Regions from separate parts of the Homo sapiens genome. Here region 2 is linked to region 1. The links come from fine-mapping of genetic effects on gene expression. A gene starts in region 1. The other region holds a variant in brackets. All regions are shown on one strand. Distances are from middle to middle. Region 1 holds the start of MICU1 (mitochondrial calcium uptake 1). Region 2 overlaps MICU1 (mitochondrial calcium uptake 1).

Evidence for each region.
Region 2: its variant is fine-mapped to the expression of MICU1 in whole blood (INTERVAL, PIP above 0.99).

Annotation. Positions count from the first base shown.
Region 1 is chr10:72,620,601-72,632,169 of GRCh38, forward strand. It overlaps MICU1 (mitochondrial calcium uptake 1), which reads right to left and starts at 5,479. Exons shown (of 12, transcript NM_001195518.2): 1 at 5,410-5,479. RefSeq lists enhancers at 5,246-5,783, 5,334-5,483.
Region 2 is chr10:72,378,415-72,386,414 of GRCh38, forward strand. The region is part of intron 10 of MICU1 (mitochondrial calcium uptake 1); the gene reads right to left. Among named protein-coding and RNA genes, the nearest start is that of DNAJB12, 27 kb to the left of the region's middle. The variant G/A (reference allele first, on the strand shown) is at 4,965.

The sequences.
Region 1 (11,569 bases):
TTTTCTCATAGTAAAACCCATCTTGAACTTAATATTAGTCTAGGAAACATTTATGATCTGCAAAAAATTGATCACCCTGTTAGTTTGGGGGAAAAAAGCTGAGTCTACTTCTAGCCATTTCTTGCCTCATAAACAGAACTAAAACACCTCTCCCACGATGTGGCAATATTTAACTTTTCAACGACAGGTTATTAATTATATTTAATGTCAATCACTTCTCACAGTTGTCCAATTCCACAGCTACCTTTTTTTGCTTTTTCAACTGACATTCTGTTACCTGTTTTACCCACAGGTATCTTATCTACAGGTATCCACTCTATCGTGCTCTTAAAGCATGATTGGCCAGGCATGGTGGCTCATGCCTGTAATCCCCATATTTTGGGAAGCCAAGGCAGGCGGAATGCTTGAACCCAGGAGATTGAGACCACCCTGGGCAACATAGTGAGACCCCGTTTCTACAGAAAAAAAAATTGTTTTAATGATGAACCACCAGAATAAGGCATAAAGATACAAAACTAGTGTTAATTATAATTTTAAAGTTAACACCCAGTAATAGCAATTAGTTATAATTATGGTAATTTATTTTACATACCACGTTCAAAATAAAGTGGTTTTGGATGGGCGCAGTGGCTCACGCCTATAATCCCAGCACTTTGGCTAGCAGATCACCTGAGGTCAGGAGTTCGAGACCAGACTGACCAACATGGTGAAACCCCATCTCTACTTAAAATACAAAAAAAAAATAGCCAGCCGTGGTGGTAGGTGCCTGTAATCCCAGCTACTTGGGAGGCTGAGGCAGGAGAATTGCTTGAACCCAAGAGGCGGAGGTTGCAGTGAGCCAAGAACGCGCCATTGCACTCCAGCCTGGGCGACAAGTGTAAAACTCCGTCTCAAAAAATAATAATAATAATAAAAAAATAAAGTGGTTTCTATACTAACAGATTTTTAAACATAAAACAATGAAAAGAACCAAGTATTTAATCATATCCACAACATGTATTTAAATATTTAAAACATTTTTATTTACTATTTATTAACTGCAGTTACTAATCAAGTTCACCCAAAGCAATAAAAATATCAAGAATTTATTTTAACAAGCTGGCTAATACATAATATATTTAAAGTTATAAAACCTGAATATTCCAGAGCAGGGGTACTAAACATGTAATAACAGTACAGATACACACACTGGAAGAGTGTAAATTTTTTCAAGTTCTTTAAGTGATTATAATAGGCATTAAAAATAGAAAAAAATCAACACATAAACTGTAAATACAATTTTTTATATTGCAAAAGGAAACCAAGTTCTCTTATTTATTTATTTATTTATTGAGCCAGAATCTTGCTCTGTCGCCCAGGCTGGAGTGCAGTGGCACGATCTCAGCTCACTGCAAGCTCTGCCTCCCAGGTTCACGCCATTCTCCTGCCTCAGCCTCCCCGGAGTAGCTGGGACTACAGGCGCCTGCCACCACACTCGGCTAATTTTTTGTATGTTTGTTTTTTTAGTAGAAACGGGGTTTCACCATGTTAGCCAGGATGGTCTCGATCTCCTGACCTCGTGATCTGCCGGCCTCAGCCTCCCAAAGTGCTGGGATTACAAGCGTGAGCCACCGCGCCCGGCCCCAAGTTCTCTTAATTAAAAAAAAAAAAAAAACATGAAAATTATTTTAGTGAACATCTGTTGTTTTTGCCTGTCCAGCAACCAATTGCTCTTCTCCAGAAAGCATCACCTCAATTTTTCTTTAGGAACTGTCACCCACCCTTAACTCAAATGGTTTCAAACTATATTCCTCTCCTTCCCACTCCAGGATAGGGACAAATTCCAAGCCTAGCCACACAAAGCATTCCATCACTCTGGCCACAGGGACTGCCTCTAGGATGGGCAAAGACCCAAGTCAGGTCAATGAAACTACCATACAGTGGTGCGCTGGAACTGTAGAGAAAGGGAAATTCTCTTTCTTCTTGGGTTTCTGAGGTTGAAGGAAGTAAGCCTAGTGCTGGTATTACAATCTTTCCCAGGGAATCTGACTCCAAAGCCTTACTTTTCCACACTGAATCCCAAATATGCAAAGGGAACTAGTGGTTACCTGGTAGTAAGAGAAAAGATAAATTAGGACTTTGACTTTCAATATTGTATTTTCGATAATGTTTCCATTTTCCAAAAATAAGCATATTACTTCAATAATAGGAAATTTAAAATGTTTAAAAATATTGCCCGTGTTTTCTTCTCAAACATGCTTATTCATATTTCAATATCTTAAAAGTATTAACAATTTTCTCATAATTTACCAAAGCACATAGAATATCCATCTAAAAACAATCACCTTCTTCTCCTGGCACAAAATAAAGCTATTACAATATTTTCATTTTTAAATTATGAGTGGGAGGCCAGGTACAGTGGCTCACACCTCTAATCCCAGCAATTTGGGAGGCTGAGGCGGGCGGATCACTTGAGGTCAGGGGTTCGAGACCAGCCTGGCCAACATAGTAAAACCCCATCTTTACTAACAATACAAAAATTAGCCGGGCGTGGTGGCGCACGCTCCTGTAATCCCAGCTACTTACGAGGATGAGGCAGAAGAATCACTTGAACCCCGGAGGCAGAGGTTGCAGTGAGCCAAAATCGCGCCATTGCACTGTAGCCTTGGCAACGAGAGTGAAACTCTGTCAAAAAGACAAGACAGAGCGAGACTCCGTCTCAAAAAAAAAAAAAAAAAAAAAGACAAGAAAAGAAAAGGGAAGGGGAGGGGAGGGAGAAAGAAAGGGAGAAGAAAGAAAAAAAGAAAAGAAAAGAAAGAAAAAGAAAATATGTGTGGAAAAAACAGTTGAGTAAACCTTTTTAAAAAAACTGGTTCTAGTGGCTAGGCATGGTGGCTTGTACCTGCAATCCCAGAACTTTGGGAGGCCAAGGCGGGAGGATCGCTTGAGTCTGGGAGTTCCAAGACTAGCCTGGGTAGGCCAGGTGTGGTGGCTCAGGCCTGTAATCCCAGCATTTTGGGAGGCCGAGGCAGGTGGATCACCTGAGGTCGTCAGGAGTTCGAGACTAGCCTGGCCAACATGTAAAACCCCATCTCTACTAAAAATACAAAAATTAGCCAGATGTGGTGCCGCGCCTGTAGTTCCAGCTACTTCGGAGGCTGAAGCAGGAGAATTGCTTGAACCCAGGAGGCAGAGGTTGCAGTGAGCCGAGATCACACCACTGCACTCCAGCCTGGGCAACAGAATGAGACTCCGTCCCCACCCCTCAACAAAAGGACCAGCCTCGGCAAAATGGCTGAACCCCATCTCCATTTAATTAATTAATTAATTAATTAAAAACTGGTTCTTATTTTAAAAGGGATACACTAAACAACTGCATATGGAAAAAATGGTTAATGTTCAGCAAGTGCTGCAGCCATTGTAAAAATGGCTCAAGAGATAAAGCTAACTTTAAAGACTGAAGGTGGCAAAATTGGGTTTAAAAAAGCTTTATCAATTATATTAGTCCTATAACTCTGAATAGCATAAGATCTGAAGGAGTTGGTCAGTTAAATATTTCAATTATAATTATTTTGCATAATATTGCATTATGGAGAAATTTCATATCGTTTTATTCTTTTGTTGTTGTTTTAAGAGACAGGGTATCGCTCTGTCGCCCAAGCTGGAGTGCAATGGTACGATCACAGCTCACTGCAGCCTCAACCTCGAGGGCTCAAGCCATCCTCCTGTCTCAGCCTCCCAAGTAGCCAGGACTACAGGCATGCGCCCAGCTAATTTTTGTGTTTTGTAGAGATGGTCTTGCCATATTGCCCAGGCTGGTCTCAAACTCCTAGATTCAAGGGATCCACCCGGCCTCCCAAATTGCTGGGATTATGGGCCTGAGACACCACACCCAGCCTGTTTTATTCTTAAACACAGGAAAGTTAGTCTCAAGATGCACTTCTTAGGAATGTAAACAATCTACTGAATATAGTAAATATAAAGGAAGACAGCAATAAACACTTTTGTTCTCTTGCATTTATTAGCTTCTATTAGTTTCTATCATTCTTTCCCTTTCTCCTCAGGCACACAAGCCACTCCAGAATATTCACTTTTTGTTAATATTATGTTTTATGGCTCTCAGTAAGGACACTCAGAAGATGTCAGAGACACTTGCTTGATATATTAGGTAGCCAGAGTGATGTTCTTAAGTGGAAGAGACAATCAGGGACAAACCAAGGATTGGGACAAAGAGTAGCTGGAGGCAAAAGCCACCTTCCTACAGACAAGTGGCAATGGGTTCTAAAGTTTTTAGGATAAGGCAATATTCAAAAAGCTCATTACCTGGTCCACACCAGAAACACAGTAGGTGGGTCATTCTGGCCAACACCTTTGTCTCAAGATACTGACGTTTATTATTTGTCATATGGTCCAATGAAACCTAAACTCTCCTACAGCTATCCACACCGAACTTGTTTCACCTCATGAAATGCAAACTCCTTTCTTATACTGCTCGATCACTTCCCTACGTGCCCCAAAGGGATGTTCTAATATAAACAAAGGCATATCAAAGAAGCCACCCAAACAAGTGAGATAGAAACATTTATTGATAAATAGGAAGAAAATGGGCGTTTCTAAGGTACCACAGGAAAAATAAAATATTTTACTCTAGTCCCTTAGCTATAAGATATTTATTCTACTTATATTTACTAATGGCCACCGTATTTTTTAAGACATGGAAAATTGGAAGGTAAAGAAACCATCAACCATAAGATTACAGAGAAGGCAACTTGAAGAACAGTTTGTTTTAAACTGTTCTCCCAACATTCACATAGAGTCAATAACATCTAGCTCTTTCTCAAAACAGCCTATGGCCGGCCAGAATGCGACGGTGAAAACAAAACAGGGAGAACGTAATGAAAACGGGAAGGCGCTGGAAAAGATAAAAACTGAACAGTCCGAGTAGCCTGCACTTTGTATTTCTCCTTTGAGTCCTCACTGATTTTCCACTTATTTCGATTCAGTGGTTAATATTTCTCCGTATTAGAAATCCATCTGTGAACTCCCGCACCCACTTCTAACCACATCCACAAATTCCAGGAGAGCCAGTCAAGGCTACCAGAGTGTCCCAGTCGCCTGTGAGGAGGGGGGCGTCGGCGCCAAGTTGCGAACCCGGCACTGGGAGAAGTTCTCCCGGGACGGGAGAAGGGACGGGTTGGGGTGAAGGAAAGTGGAGGACGGGAGGCAAGCAAGACTACGGACTCCTCTCCAAAAGCTGAGCGCATCAGGGAGAGACAGGTATCCCGCCAGACCCGAGAAGTAGCCGGATGCCCGGGGCGGACAAACGGCCAGCCACGAAGCCCAGTTCCCTAAGGCTGTCTCGCCAACCCCCTTCCCCTTCGCCTTCCCTAAATTGCTGTCTCCTTATACCCTCCAGAGTCCAAGACTCACGCGTCCAAACACGAGCTCCAGCAGCCTCTCGGTCAAAGCCGCCCACCTCTGACAGCCATAGAGATGAAACAGCGGAGACAAACCTCCACCCCCTCCGCCCACTCTCACGTGACTCTCCTAGCCGCTGGGCCTGTCGGGATCGTGGAGACAGGCGTGTGGGAGGGGCACAGAGGAAAAGGAACGGGGAGGGGCGGGGAAATCAACGCGCCACGCCCCAGCCTCGGGCCCCGCCCTAGCCCCGTCACTCCCCCTTACTCCCCTCAGCGTTTAGGCGGGAAAGCTGGAGAGCTCCCAGAAGCTCTCGGGCATTTCTTCTGGTTTTTTTCCCCTCCACAAGGGTCATAGGAATCTGTTGAGAAATTTACTGTGGCTTGTAACACCTCCTCGGTACCCGTTTTCGTGTTGGCTATGTTGGCTAAGCAAAAAGGAGTTCGTGAAAAGAAAACTGGACCACAGTGAGTTGGAAATTGTTTCTTTCCAACTCCGTTTAGGTTTTCTCAGAGATTAAATGTTCCTGTTTCATAACCTTGAGACTTTTTTGGATTTAGAAACCCTCACCACTTCCTCTGGTGGATGATTTTGTCAGGTGTTTTATTTGCAGACTAATATTATTGCAGAGTTTATAATCTCTAGAAGCCACTTAAAAACATGTTTTCCCTTGAAGAATGTGTTTTTTGTTTGTTTGTTTGTTTGTTTGTTTTGAGATAGAGTTTCACTCTTGATGCCCAGGCTGGAGTGCAGTGGAGCGATCTCGGCTCTCTGCAATCTCTGCCTCCTGGGTTCAAGCGATTCTCCTGCCTCAGCCTCCCAAGTAGCTGGGATTACAGGCATGCGCCACCACGCCCTACTAATTTGTATTTTTGGTAGAGACGGGGTTTTTCCATGTTGGTCAGGCTGGTCTGGAACGCCCGACCTCAGGTGATCCGCCCACCTCGGCCTCCCAAAGTGCGAGGATTACAGGCGTGAGCCACTGCGCCCGGCTGAAGAAGGTGTTTTTATCAGAAAAATGGGATGGCAAAGGATCCTCACCCCTGCTGTGGAAATAGGATGGAAATATGACTATAATACCAGAGAATTTTTTTGGGGGGGGGGCAGCGGGGTGTTGGTTGGTTGTTTGTTCGTTTGTTTTGAGACGGAGTCTCGCACTGTCGCCCAGGTTGGAGTGCAGTGATGCTCACTGCAACATCCTCCTCCCAGGTTCAAGTGATTCTTCTGCCTCAGCCTCCCGAGTAGCTGAGATTACAGGCACGCCCCACCACGCCCGGCTAATTTTTGTATTTTTAGTACAGACGGGGTTTCGCCATGTTGGGCAGGCTAGTCTCAAACTCCTGACCTCGGGCGATCCTCCCGTCTCGGCTTCCCAAAGTGCTGGGATTAACAAGTGCGAGCCACCTCGCTGGTCCCAGAGAACTTTCAAATAATTTTTTTTTCCCAAGAATTTACGTAGCAGAGCTGTGGAAAAGGCAACAACCATGGAAACAAAGCCAACAAAACCATCCCTGGGGTAAATTGTGAAGTAAGCAGAATCAACTCTGTTTTCTCCATTTCTTCTCAGACCCAACTAACCTAAGTACAATAGATGATTGTGTTCATGGCTCTGTGCTAGCGCTTTACATACAACCCAGTGCTTGTCTACAACCACTCTAGGATGGATACTGTTTTATTCATTTGCAGATAGGGAAGCAGGCTGACACCCCTAGGTAATGCAGTACATGCAGTAGCGGGACATAGACCTGACCTGAAGGCCTCTGAGGCTTCCACTCTTAAATGATGTAATTCAGGCCGGGCGCGGTGGCTCACGCCTGTAATCCCAGCACTTTGGGAGGCTGAGGCGGGCGGGTCAGGAGATCGAGACCATCCTGGCTAACACGGTGAAACCCTGTCTCTACTAAAAATACAAAAAATTAGCCAGGCGTGGTGGCGGGCGCCTGTAGTCCCAGCTACTCGGGAGGCTGAGACAGGAGAATGGCAGGAACCCGGGAGGCAGAGCTTGCAGTAAGCCAAGATCGTGCCACTGCACTCCAGCCTGGGCGACAAAGCGAGACTCCGTCTCAAAAAAAGAAAGAAAGATTTGCTGAAATTCAATTCTAATTTTAGGCAACATTTGTCTATATAAAACTAATCAGTCAAACTAACTGTTAAATAACATTTAAAAACATAAATCATTGTTTCTCAAACGTTTTGGTCTTAGGACCCCTATACACTTAAAAATTATTGAGGACTCAAAATAACTTTTATTTATGTGTGTTATACCTATCGATATTTACCATATTCGGCCAGGCAGAGGCTAATACCTATAATCTCAGCATTTTGAGAGACTGAGATGGGATGATCACGTGAGGCTAGGACTTTGAGGCTACAGTGAGCTATGATCATGCCACTGCACTCCAGCCTGCGCAACAGCGCAAGAACCTGTCTCTATAAACTTTTTTTAATTTAGCATATGAGGACTTAAAATTGAGGCCGGGTACAATGGCACCCAGCACTTTGGGAGGCAGAGGCGGCAGATCACCTGAGGTCATGAGTTCGAGACCATCTTGGCCAACATGGTGAAACCCTATCTCTACTAAAAATACAAAAATTAGCCAGGCATGGTGGCACACGCCTGTAATCCCAGCTACTCAGGAGGCTGAGGTAGGAGAATCGCCTGAATCCGGTAGACAGAGGTTGCAGTGAGCCAGGATCATGCCACTGCACTCCAGCCTAGGCCTCAGTGACAGAGCAAGACTCAGTCTCAAAAAAAAAAAAGAGAAAAGAAAGAAAATTAAAATTGAAATTATTTTAATGTGTACTTAGTCATTTAAAAATAATAGATCCATTATATGTTGACATAAATAATGTATTCTTAAGAAAAACAACTTCAAAAAAAAAGAGTAGCATGGTTTTACATTATTGCAAATTTCTTTTCTTTTTTTTTGAGACAGAGTCTCACTGTGTCGCCCAGGCTGGAGTGCAGTGGCACGATCTCGGCTCACTGCAACCTCTGCTTCCCGGTTTCAAGTGATTCTCCTGCCTCAGCCTCCTGAGTAGCTGGGATTACAGGCGCATGCCACCACGCCCGGCTAATTTTTTTGTATTTTTAGTAGAGACGGGGTTTCACCATGTTGATCAGGCCGGTCTCAAACCCCTGACCTCGTGATCCGCCCACATCGTCCTCCCAAAGTACTGGGATTACAGGCATGAGCCACTGTGCCCGGCTGCAAATTTCTTTAATGTCTGGCTTAATAGAAGACAGATTCTTGTATCTTTTCTGCATTAAATGTTTGCACTCTTACACTTCATGTAGCCTCTGGCAAACTCTACTATATACTCAAGAAAGAATTAGAGCGATAAGGCAAATAACAGTGTATTAGTAAGAAAACAGTCTTGACCTTACAGATTACTAGAAAGGGTTTCAGGAAACCTCCAGTGGTCTTTGACCACACTTTGAGAACCACTGTTTTAAACCATACAAATGTTAAATGCTATTGTATATTTTGTCTAGTCATTTTGGCATCAAGTAGAACATTTAATGGAAAGGAGAACAAGACAGAGACAATTTACAGACTAGGCCAATCTTATACAAATAAATATGAGATGTGAGTATTCTTTCTTCATTTCTTTTTTTTTTTCTTTTTTTGAGACGGAGTCTTGCTGTGTCACCCAGGCTAGAGTGCAGTGGCACAATCTTGGCTCACTGCAACCTCCACCTCCCAGGTTCAAGTGATTCTCCTGCCTCAGCCTCCTGAGTAGCTGGGATTACAGGCATGCGCCACCATGCCTGGCTAATTTTTGTGTTTTTAGTAGAGATGGGGTTTCACCATTTTGGCCAGGCTGGTCTCGAACTCCTGACCTCGTGATCCACCCGCCTCAGCCTCCCATAATGCTTGGATTACAGGCGTGAGCCACCGCATCTAGCTCCTTCTTCATTTCCAAGAGTATAGAGTAAGTTAGCAGAATTCAAGGTCATAACCAAACACAGCTATATTCTACATTAGAAATCTGTCCATCAATTCAGTATTGTTTTTCAGGATGCTATGCAATGTGTTCCGAGTCATATAAATGTATGATATCACTAATCAAGGTTTATATCTCCTGTACAAACTAATAATAAGACTCCTCTGGTGACCAATAAAATTTGAAGTCAAAATTCTTTCACAGACATATATTGAATACCTACATATTAATATATGTAATGCTCACAACTAGTGCTGGGCTTGTAAAAATTTATAAGCTCGATTCCTGCCCTTGGGCAACTTGTATCTATAATGAGACTTGCACCACCGTAAAAATGTATTTTTTAACAAGTTCAGTAGTTCCCAAACCAGTCTGGTGATCAAATGCCTGGGAATTATCTGAGGAGATTTTTAAAATACAGATTCTTGGATCATGAGACACACTGCTTCAGTGAACCAGGGTGATGCTCTGGAATCTGGATTTTAAAAGTCCCAGGTGATTCCCCTGCAATGATAGGATTGGGAATGAATACTAAGTCCTGTATACTTGACAAATAGATTTGATCTTTGCCCCCAGGACTATCATACTATCATATGCAAAATATAATGTTTATTTATTTCATCTTCAGTATTTCAAAAGTGTGTTGTGTTGAAAGATCTGTGTTATCAAGGGACAGTATTTAATGTCATTCACTAAAAATAGAAATTGGTGTCCTTATGTCATACATTTTATAGTTCATCTATTCTTATCACATTAAAATAATATGTGTTACCACAGCAGTCTCCAACATATCACACCACTGTAAAAAACAAAAACATCTTTTGCAACAAGTATCAGACTACAAAAAGTTTATTTTCTAAAGCTTTCATTCAGTTTCTTTAAAATGAATTCAATGAGATGGTCTTTGTTTTATTACACTTATCTTCAGGGTTCCATAGATTATGGTATCTCAAAACCTATGCAGTCGTCCATCACAAACTCCTTTTGAATATATATATCAGAGACAGAGACAGAGAAACAAAGAGACAGAGAGTCTTAGAGTCTTACTCTGTCGCCCAGGCTGGAATGCAGTGCACCATCTCAGCTCACTGCAGCCTCAACCTCCCAGGCTCAAGTGATCCTCCCGCCTCAGCCTCCTGAGTAGCTGAGACTACAGGTGCAAACCACCAGCCCTGGCTAATTTTTTGTAATTTTTGTAGAGACAACATATCACTATGTTGCCCGGGCTGGTCTCGAACTCCTTGGCTCAAGAGATCCACCCACCTTGGCCTCCCAAAGTGCTGAGATTACAGGTGTGAGCCACCACACCCAACCTTTTTGAAGTTATATTGTACTTGAGTAGCTATCTAGAGACTTATGACCCATAGTTGTTCTTGCAGTGAGTATTCTTCTCTAATACTTATAGCCAGAATTAATTATGTTCAAATAAATATGAAAAAAATTTTAAAAAAGCTTAAATGTTTCCTGGCTTTTTACCACTAGGAGGTGGGAGGATGGCATAAATATGATGATTTATAAAAATTGACATATTCTCCTTGATTTTATGATTGAAACTAACTTCAAAATTAAAGAATCTCTGCCCAGATCTTGATTTCTGAACTACCTTTCTCCACAAAAAGGAACTAAGTCTTCTTGAAAACAGGGCTGGTTTCAAGTCTACAGCAGGAATGTACAAGATGACCTGGAACATCTTGTTGTGTCCAAAAGTAAGGAAGCAATCAGAAAATAAAATGAGGACATGTCAAAGGGAGCCAGCTTGAAGGCCCATCACTGGCCAAATCTGGGATAATTGGAGTACCAGCATAAGAACAGTAATAAGTGGCTGGGCGGGATGGCTCACGCCTGTAATCCCAGCACTTTGGGAGGCCGAGGCGGGCATATCACAAGGTTAAGAGATTGAGACCATCCTGGCCAACATGGTGAAACCGTGTCTGTACTAAAAAAATACAAAAGTTAGCTGAGTGTGGTGGTGCGTGCCTGTAGTCCCAGCTACTCGGGAGGCTGAGGCAGGAGAATCGTTTGAACCCAGGAGGCAGAGGTTGCAGTGAGCCAAGATCACACCACTACACTCCAGGCTGGCAACAGAGCCAGACTGTCTCAAAAGAAAAAAAAAAAAAGAACAGTAGTAAGTTACAGCCACTGAATAAAATAAGAATCCAACAATCTATATTAAGGAGAGAAAGAGAAATGGGGAAATCAGACAGTGGCTTTCCTTAAAGTAGAC
Region 2 (8,000 bases), 240 kb before region 1:
TGTGTGGCACCTCCCACCTCTCTCTCTTCCTCCTGCTCTGGCCATGTGAGACGTGCCTCCTTCCTCTTCGCCTTTCACCAGGATTGTAAGTTTCCTGAGGCCTCCTCAGCCATGCTTCCTTTACAGCCTGTGGAACTGTGAGCCAATTAAGCCTCTTTTCTTTATAAATTACCCAGTCTCAGGTAGTTCTTTATAGCAATGCAAGAATTAATTAATACATCACCACAGTGCCCCCAACATCAGCAGATGCAAACACTGGAGCAATGCAGAGGAGCAAGGTAATGCGGTAGAAAACAAGGCTTGGAGTAACGGGACCTGGGCTCCAGTTCTGGCCCCACCACCAACGTGCTGTGTGACCCGGATGGAGTCACTTGATCTCTTTAGATTTAATTTTCTCATGTTCAAGTGGAGGGATGCCACCAGACAACTGCTGAGGCGGCTTACTAGCACAAAGAAGGGTTTATTGGTGTCATCTAGAATCTGAGGGTGAGGTTGGGGTGGAAATATCCCATCTTTTCTCCCAGGATCTGAGTTAGGGTGAAGAGGAAATTAACATTCTTTGGTACTAAAAGACTGAAGTATAAGATATTGTGGTGGATATTCATGAGATGTGTGTTGGGAAATCTACAAGACTATAGCGCTCTAGAGTTTAGAAATTTAGCCTCACAAATCTAGATACTTGATTTGGCTCAGGAAAAACTTATTCCTGCTAACTAAACTGTCCACAGAAGGAACAGAAATCAGGCCAATTTGCAATAAGAATAGTAACTGTTAAGAGAACTACAATGATGACAGCTGGTCATTATACTTCTCAGTAGGAAAGCTACTAAGGAAACCCCATTCACCTCAGAAGATTAACCTCAAAAGATTACTCAGTGAAAACAGAATGAGATCAGAAGGAACTGGAAGCGCTTAAACTGTGATTGCCTACAGCTTTACTCTTTGCTGCCACAGAAATGTGTCCTGAGAAGGGGATCGGAACCTGTTCTGTATTAGATAAACATGAACACTTTCTGTTAACCATTCCTTTTTCTGCATTTCACATCAACCTTAAGCTTCTGACTTCCTTTTCTCTTTCCCAGTTCTTCCATTCTCTCAGGGCACAGCCTTCTGCAATTGTCTTGATATTTCAAGTACTCATCTTCTCCCCATGAAGATGGTGCCCTTTCCTGTAAATAAACCATTAATTAAATAATACTCAAGGATGTCAGTGAGAGCTCTTGACAATTTCTAATGAGAGGCTCATTAAATTGGTATTAAGTGGTTGTAGAATAGGGACTTCTGGAGGCCTCCAGCAAGAATGCCTCATTACAGATGCCATCTCTTCACAGAAAGTTATAGATTATGTTCCATCTCACATGGAGAGGGCTCTGGTGTCCTTCCTACCATAGGAGGAAGAACTAGGGCTGCTAAGTTATTGTAGCCCAAACCACTGGGATGTTAGCCAGCAAACAGCCTAGCTGGGGTCCCCTTTCCTGGTACAAGATCCTCATTATAGGCCCCTGGGGTATGAATCAGAGTCGTGCAGGAAGCCAACATTTAATAGCTGGTGAGCTGTCAAACTAGGAGCACCTGGGATGAGTGGGATGACGGCAGATTACAAGCCAAGTGCTTGACAGCTGGTCCTGAGAGTTGGTTCATTCATATTTGCTTCCAATATCTCTGAATCCAGTCATAATCACAGCAAGCAGAACAAGTTTTCCTCCCAGATCTCAACTTTTTTATGCAGACCAGTTGTTGGTACTGGAATTCTGGCCTCCCTATTTGATGATGCTGACTGATGGTTGGGATTCCAGCTCCCAATCTGAAAGATGTCTACAGGGAGCATGAAGGCACCCCAGCGAAGGCCTAGCTTTCTAAATACTACGTATTTTTGTACAAATCTGGCCCAGCTGCCTGAACAAAGGGTTTAAGTGCGATTGGGTGATTCCTATTAGATTGGGATGGGAGAGAATTTGTAGAAGTGGGCTCAACTAGTACTCAAAAATCTGGCACCATCTGGCTTTTTGCAAAGTCCAGGCAGAATCCGAGTTGTGTCAGGTCCCCAATTTACTCTCCAGCATGATTCATGACTGGCTGTTTCAACAGTAAAAAGAAACCCTGAGTTTGTGTGATATAATATCAGAAACTACATACATAAATCTATTCACCACAATAGTTAAACAGAAGAGCTCTGAAGTGATGAGAGCCCAAATGTCCACTTGGAATCAGAGAATCTTAGAACTGGAAGATACCTCAGAGGAAATGTGACGTTAAATAATTTGCCCAGGGTCACAATGCTAGATGGTAACAGAGCTGGGTCTCGAATTTTGGCTGGTGCCCTTTCCCTATACACACTGGGTCCACATGATCCCTTCCATATATGGACAATATCAATTCCTCCATGACATGAATCTGTCACCCTGAGGAGAAAGGGTTTAGATTAAAGAAAAGTCACATGGGAAATACTCAAGTCCTTTTGGTGAGGGATGAATGAATAATTGAATAACTGGGAGTTGTGAGGCACCAGCATTAATTATAGGTTGGCCGTGGATCTGACTACCCCCTACAGTGGAAGACACTGAGTATTCCCTAGGAACTCATACCGACAATTTTAGGGACAACTTAAAAAGTGTATTCAACAGCAATCCAACGAAAAGCACATGTAACGAATGTGGCCCTGGGAGTTTTTCTCCACAGCTGCCTCTGATGCACAGATACAGCTTTAGGCAGCATGACCCAGTTAGGAGCTACCTGCCTCTTCCTAATGCAAAAGTGTTTGGAAAGGTGGTATGACAAGTTGGGCTGACAGTCTCTAAGCTGTGTGGCCATGTACTATTCCTGCCTTACCGGACTGCAGTGGAGAAAATCAAAAGCTGACTGGTGATGGCCAAGGTTAAGTGAGGGGAGATGGTTCTGCTTCAGCCCTGGAAAGGCTGATGCAGATGTCTTGTTTTCTTAAGTCCATCCCTAGATGGCTTTGGGTGGAACAAGGGGGAGGATATTTCCTTAAAGAGCATGTGTCCTGTCTTTTGTATCTCCTTCCATGAGCTTTTGTTAATACAAATGCACATTTTAACCTAGTTCTGGGGTGAGGGGAGGGGAAACGACAACATTTAGGAGAACTAGCAATTTAAGGAGCCAAGAGCAATGCAGCCTACAAGTAATGGAAATGATAACAATTCCTTGTTCTGTACGGTGCTCTTAGGCCCTATGCCCGCTGACCCCCTGTGTACTCAGGCTGCCTGACTGTCAGAGGTGATGCTGCTAATCCTAGCTCCTAACTTCCAGGACACACCACGGAGAAGATCTGTTTTCTGAGCCTGAGCGCATCATCCCAGATGATGGCTTCAATGGGCTTACACGCTTAATTTGGTACAAACTAACTTGGCAGTAAGATTTATTGCCATTGTCTAGTATTGTATCTGGGTTTATTAAAAATCCCCATCACATCTTTTCCACAAAGGGCTAGCATTTCTGCAAGCATCATTAGGTAGTCAATGATTTCAGCTGACACACCCATGGGACAATCACAGTTTGGTGGAGGAGACTGTGTATATATATATCTATACACACACACACACACACACACACACACACACACACACACACATTAAGATGGAGAAACACGTAGAAGAGACAGATATCAGATATATTAATACACACATATGGGAAATAATGGAATAGTGTGTATTTGGTACGAGTTACATTTTGGATCTGAATTCTTTTTTTTTTTTGAGACAGTCTTGCTCTGTCGCCCAGGCTGGAGTGCAGTGGTGCGATCTCGGCTCATTGCAACCTCGCCTCCCGGGTTTAAGTGATTCTCCTGCCTCAGCCTCCCTAGTAGCTGGGATTACAGGTGCCTGCCACCACGTCCGGCTAATTTTTTTTTTTTTTTAGTAGAGACAGGGTTTCGCCATGTTGGCTAGGCTGGTCTCGAACTCCTGACCTCAGGTGATCCACCCGCCTTGACCTCCCAAAGTGCTGGGATTACAGGCATGAGCCACCGCGCCTGGCCTGTATCTGAATTCTAAGGGAGAAAAGAGACCAACTGCGCATGTATGGTAGTGAGTGATGTGGGTTGGGGGTTTCTGTTTGAATACAGTATTAAAAGCAGGAAGGAGTGCTAAGGCCTGATTAGAGAGTTAGAACAGAAGGTGCAGGGGGTGAGTACATTAGGAGAAATCTTACAGAGGACTAGTCAAGTCTCCTTGCAAGAAAGTCTTTAAAACAGGCCAAGTGTGGTGGCTCACGCCTGTAATCCCAGCACTTTATGAGGCCAAGGCAGGCAGATCACCCGAGCTTAGGAATTCAAGACCAGACTGGCCAACATGGCGAAACCCCGTCTCTACTAAAAATACAAAAATTAGCCAGGCGTGGTGGCACATGCCTGTAATCCCAGCTACTCAGGAGGCTGAGGCAAGGGAATCACTTGAACCCGGGAGGCGGAGGCTGCAGTGAGCCAAGATCACGCCACTGCACTCCAGCCTGGGCGACAGAGCAAGCCTCCGTCCAATAGTAACTTGCTTTTCCCTCTCACATTGTTTAAATATTCATTCTGTTAGCTTTATTTTAAAAGTTGTTTTTAATTAGGACAGGTGCAGTGGCTCATGCTTATAATCCTAGTGGTTTGGGAGGCCAAGAATGAGACCAGCCTGGGCAATAGAGGAAGACCTCATCTCTACGAAAAATTTTAAAAAACATTAGTTGGGCACGATGGTGCGCTCCTGCAGTCCTAGCTACTTGGGAAACTGAGGTGGGAGGATTACCTGAGCCCAGGAGTTCAAGTCTGCAGTGAGCTATGACTGCACAACTGTACTCCAACCTAGGCAACAGAGCAAGACCCTGTCTCAAAAAAAAAAAAAAAAAGATGTTTTTGATTCGCTAATATAGTCATCTGCTTCAAAATTTGAATGGTACAAAAGGGGTGAAGTCTCTCTCCCAACCTTATACCCCAGTCACCCAGTCATTCAGAGACAATCAAT[G/A]TCACTAGTTTCCCCAGAAATATTTTGTAGATATAAAATCAAATATGTACTCTTCGCTTCTTCCCTTTTCCCACAAAATGGTGGTGTACTAAATATTGTTTTGCTTTACTCACTTAACAACATATCTTAGAAATAATTCCAGATGGACATGAGCAGCTTCCTTCAATAGCTGCATAGTATTCCACTGACAGGATGGATCATAATTTCCTTGTTTATTTAACCAGTTCCTTATTTATTCTTATCTCAATCTTGAGAAGAAGGTACCTTTTCCCCTTCTCTTTAAAAAATTATTTCCTTTGTGGTCTGTGGGGGTCAGCTATAACAGAGTCTGAATCTCTGATGGCTAAACTGAGAGTAACTGATATATTTAAATTCAGTTTGTTGAAATTAAAGACTAAATAGTCACCTTTACAAGTGTCTTTTTTGTTTGTTTTTTTGAGACAGGGTCTTGGTTCTGTTGCTCAGGCTAGAGTGCTGTGGCAAGATCATGGCTCACTGCAACCTCTGCCTCCTGGGCTCCTGATTCTCCCGCCTCAGCCTCCCTAGTAACTGGGACTACAGGTGTGGATTACCACACCTGGCTAGGTTTTGCATTTTTAAACAATTTTATTAAAAAAAAATTTTTTTTTAATTGAGACAGGGTCTTGCTCTGTTGCTCAGGCTGGAGTGCAGTAGTGAGGGCACAGCTCACCACAGCCTCAACATCCTGGGCTCAAATGATCCTCCCGCCTCAGCCTCGGAAGTAGCTAGGACTACAGGCTCGCGCCACCATGCCTGGCTAATTTTTGTATTTTTTTGTAGAGATGGGGTTTCACCATGTTGCCCAGGCTGGTCTTGAACTCCTGGGCTCAAGCGAACCACCCACCTTGGCCTCCCAAAGTGCTGGGATTATAGGCTATGAGCCACTGGGCCCAGCCACAGTGTCTTATTAAACCTTCCGAGGCTTCTCAAGGTAGTAAACCTTGAAACCCCCAAAGAAGCAATGCTTATAATAAATACTCCCTCTACACTTTCCCGATATTGATGTAATTCTAGTAATCATTCTTTTTCTGATCTTTTTCTCAGTGGGATGTAATGTTGGCTGATTTTGTCTTTCCTTATCTATTTATGTGGATGCTTTAACAGTTTATCCTACCCCCATCTCTTCTCTTTGTGATGTAATTCATGATGGTAATCATGAATCCCTAAAGCAGCTCTCCTCCTCCTTAGGGCACTTACCTAATTTTACTAAATCATAATATATTCAAAGTGATCATAAGCCAGAATCAATCTTTAGAATTGCTAAGTGACTTTAAATTTGGGAAAATAAACCAGGCCTCTGCAGAGAAAATGCCTCATAAAGCAAACATTTATTTCAGAATTTGAGCTTCCTTGCCTACATCATGAATAATTTTACTTTAAAAATTGATGACTCTGTCTTAAATGAATGGAATCCTGGCCAACACTCCTCTTCACATATAAATGTTTTTACCAAATGTAATGATGAACTGAAGTGCAAGAGCTTGCCTCCCACAAACTTTAAAAGAATTTATAAAATAGGAGCTTTTTTCCTGTTGTAATCTCTTCCTTACATGTCTTTGTGACACTCCTGCCTTCCTGCCATGTCTTGGCTGTCTGGGGGATGCTCTCCCTACATTCTTGCTGTGAATTTGCCCCACTTTCCGGCATCACATAAAAGCATTGAGTCCTCGATGTAATTCTCTAGGTCCTTCTAGCAGCAGTAGGTGCCAGGGTACTAATGAGAACCCTGGTGTGGAAGTCGCTGAACCTGAACTTCTGGTCTGTGATTTCAGCAAGTCATTTCCCTTTATGAATGTTAAAAACAAGCAGGCCGGGCACAGTGGCTCACGTCTATAAATCCAACACTTTGGGAGGCCGAGCTGGGCAGATCACCTGAGGTCAGGAGTTCAAGACCAGCCTGGCCAACATGGTAAAACCCTGTCTCTACTAAAAATATATAAATTAGCTGGGCGTGGTGGTGTGTGCCTGTAATCCCAGCTAACTGGGAGGCTGAGACAGGAGAATCACTAGAACCCAGGAGGCGGAGGTTGTAGTGAGCTGAGATCATGCCACTGCACTCTAGCCTAGGTGACAGAGCAAGACTGTCTCAAAAAAAACCAACCAAACAAACAAAAAACCAAAAAACAAAGTAAGGGTTTAAACAAAATGATTTTTAAGTTATCTTCCAGCCCTAAAATTTAAATCAGTTTAAATGTCCCTATCTTCAGAATAATAAAACCAAAGGTGTAGGTTTCTAAAATGATGGCTGGTGTGCTGAGCAGAATTCTGACGTGCCCCCCGCCCAGTATTTCCACCCTCTGGTCCACATATCCTGTGTAATCCCCTCTCCTCAGGTGGGCAGAACCTGTGACTACGATAATCCTGTGATGAGGTTACTGTATATGAGAAAGGTGATGGGCTAGTCAGTCCCATAACTATGTTATGTAAGAATCCATCTTAGCAGACTGAGGCGAGAGATTCTGTTGCTGGCTCTGAAGAAGTGAGTTGCCATGCTGTGAGGGGCCTGGTGGCAAGGAGCTGTAGTCACCTGCTGAGAGCAATGACTGGCCAACAGCCAGCAAGGAAAAGGAATCCTTGGTCCTACAACTGAAAGGACCTGAATTCTGCCAACAGCAGGAAAGAACTTTGAAGAGGACCCTGAACTCCGGATGAAAATGAAGGCCCCCCAACAACACTGCGATTTCATCCTTGTTAAGATCCTAAGCAGAGAACCCAGCTATGCTGTGCCAACACTCTGAATCACAGAAACTGGCCAGTGGGGAAGGCATTTATGATTGGGAATGTCTTTTTTTTTTGGAGGGGGACGGAGTCTCGCTCTGTCGCCCAGGCTGGAGTACAGTGGCGTGATCTTGGCTCACTACAACCTCTGCCTCCCGGGTTCAAACAATTATCCCACCTTAGCCTTCTGAGTAGCTGGGATTACAGGTGCCCACCACCACACCAGGCTAATTTTTGTATTTTTAGTAGAGACGGGGTTTCCCCATGTTGGCCAGGCTCGTCTTGAACTCCTGACCT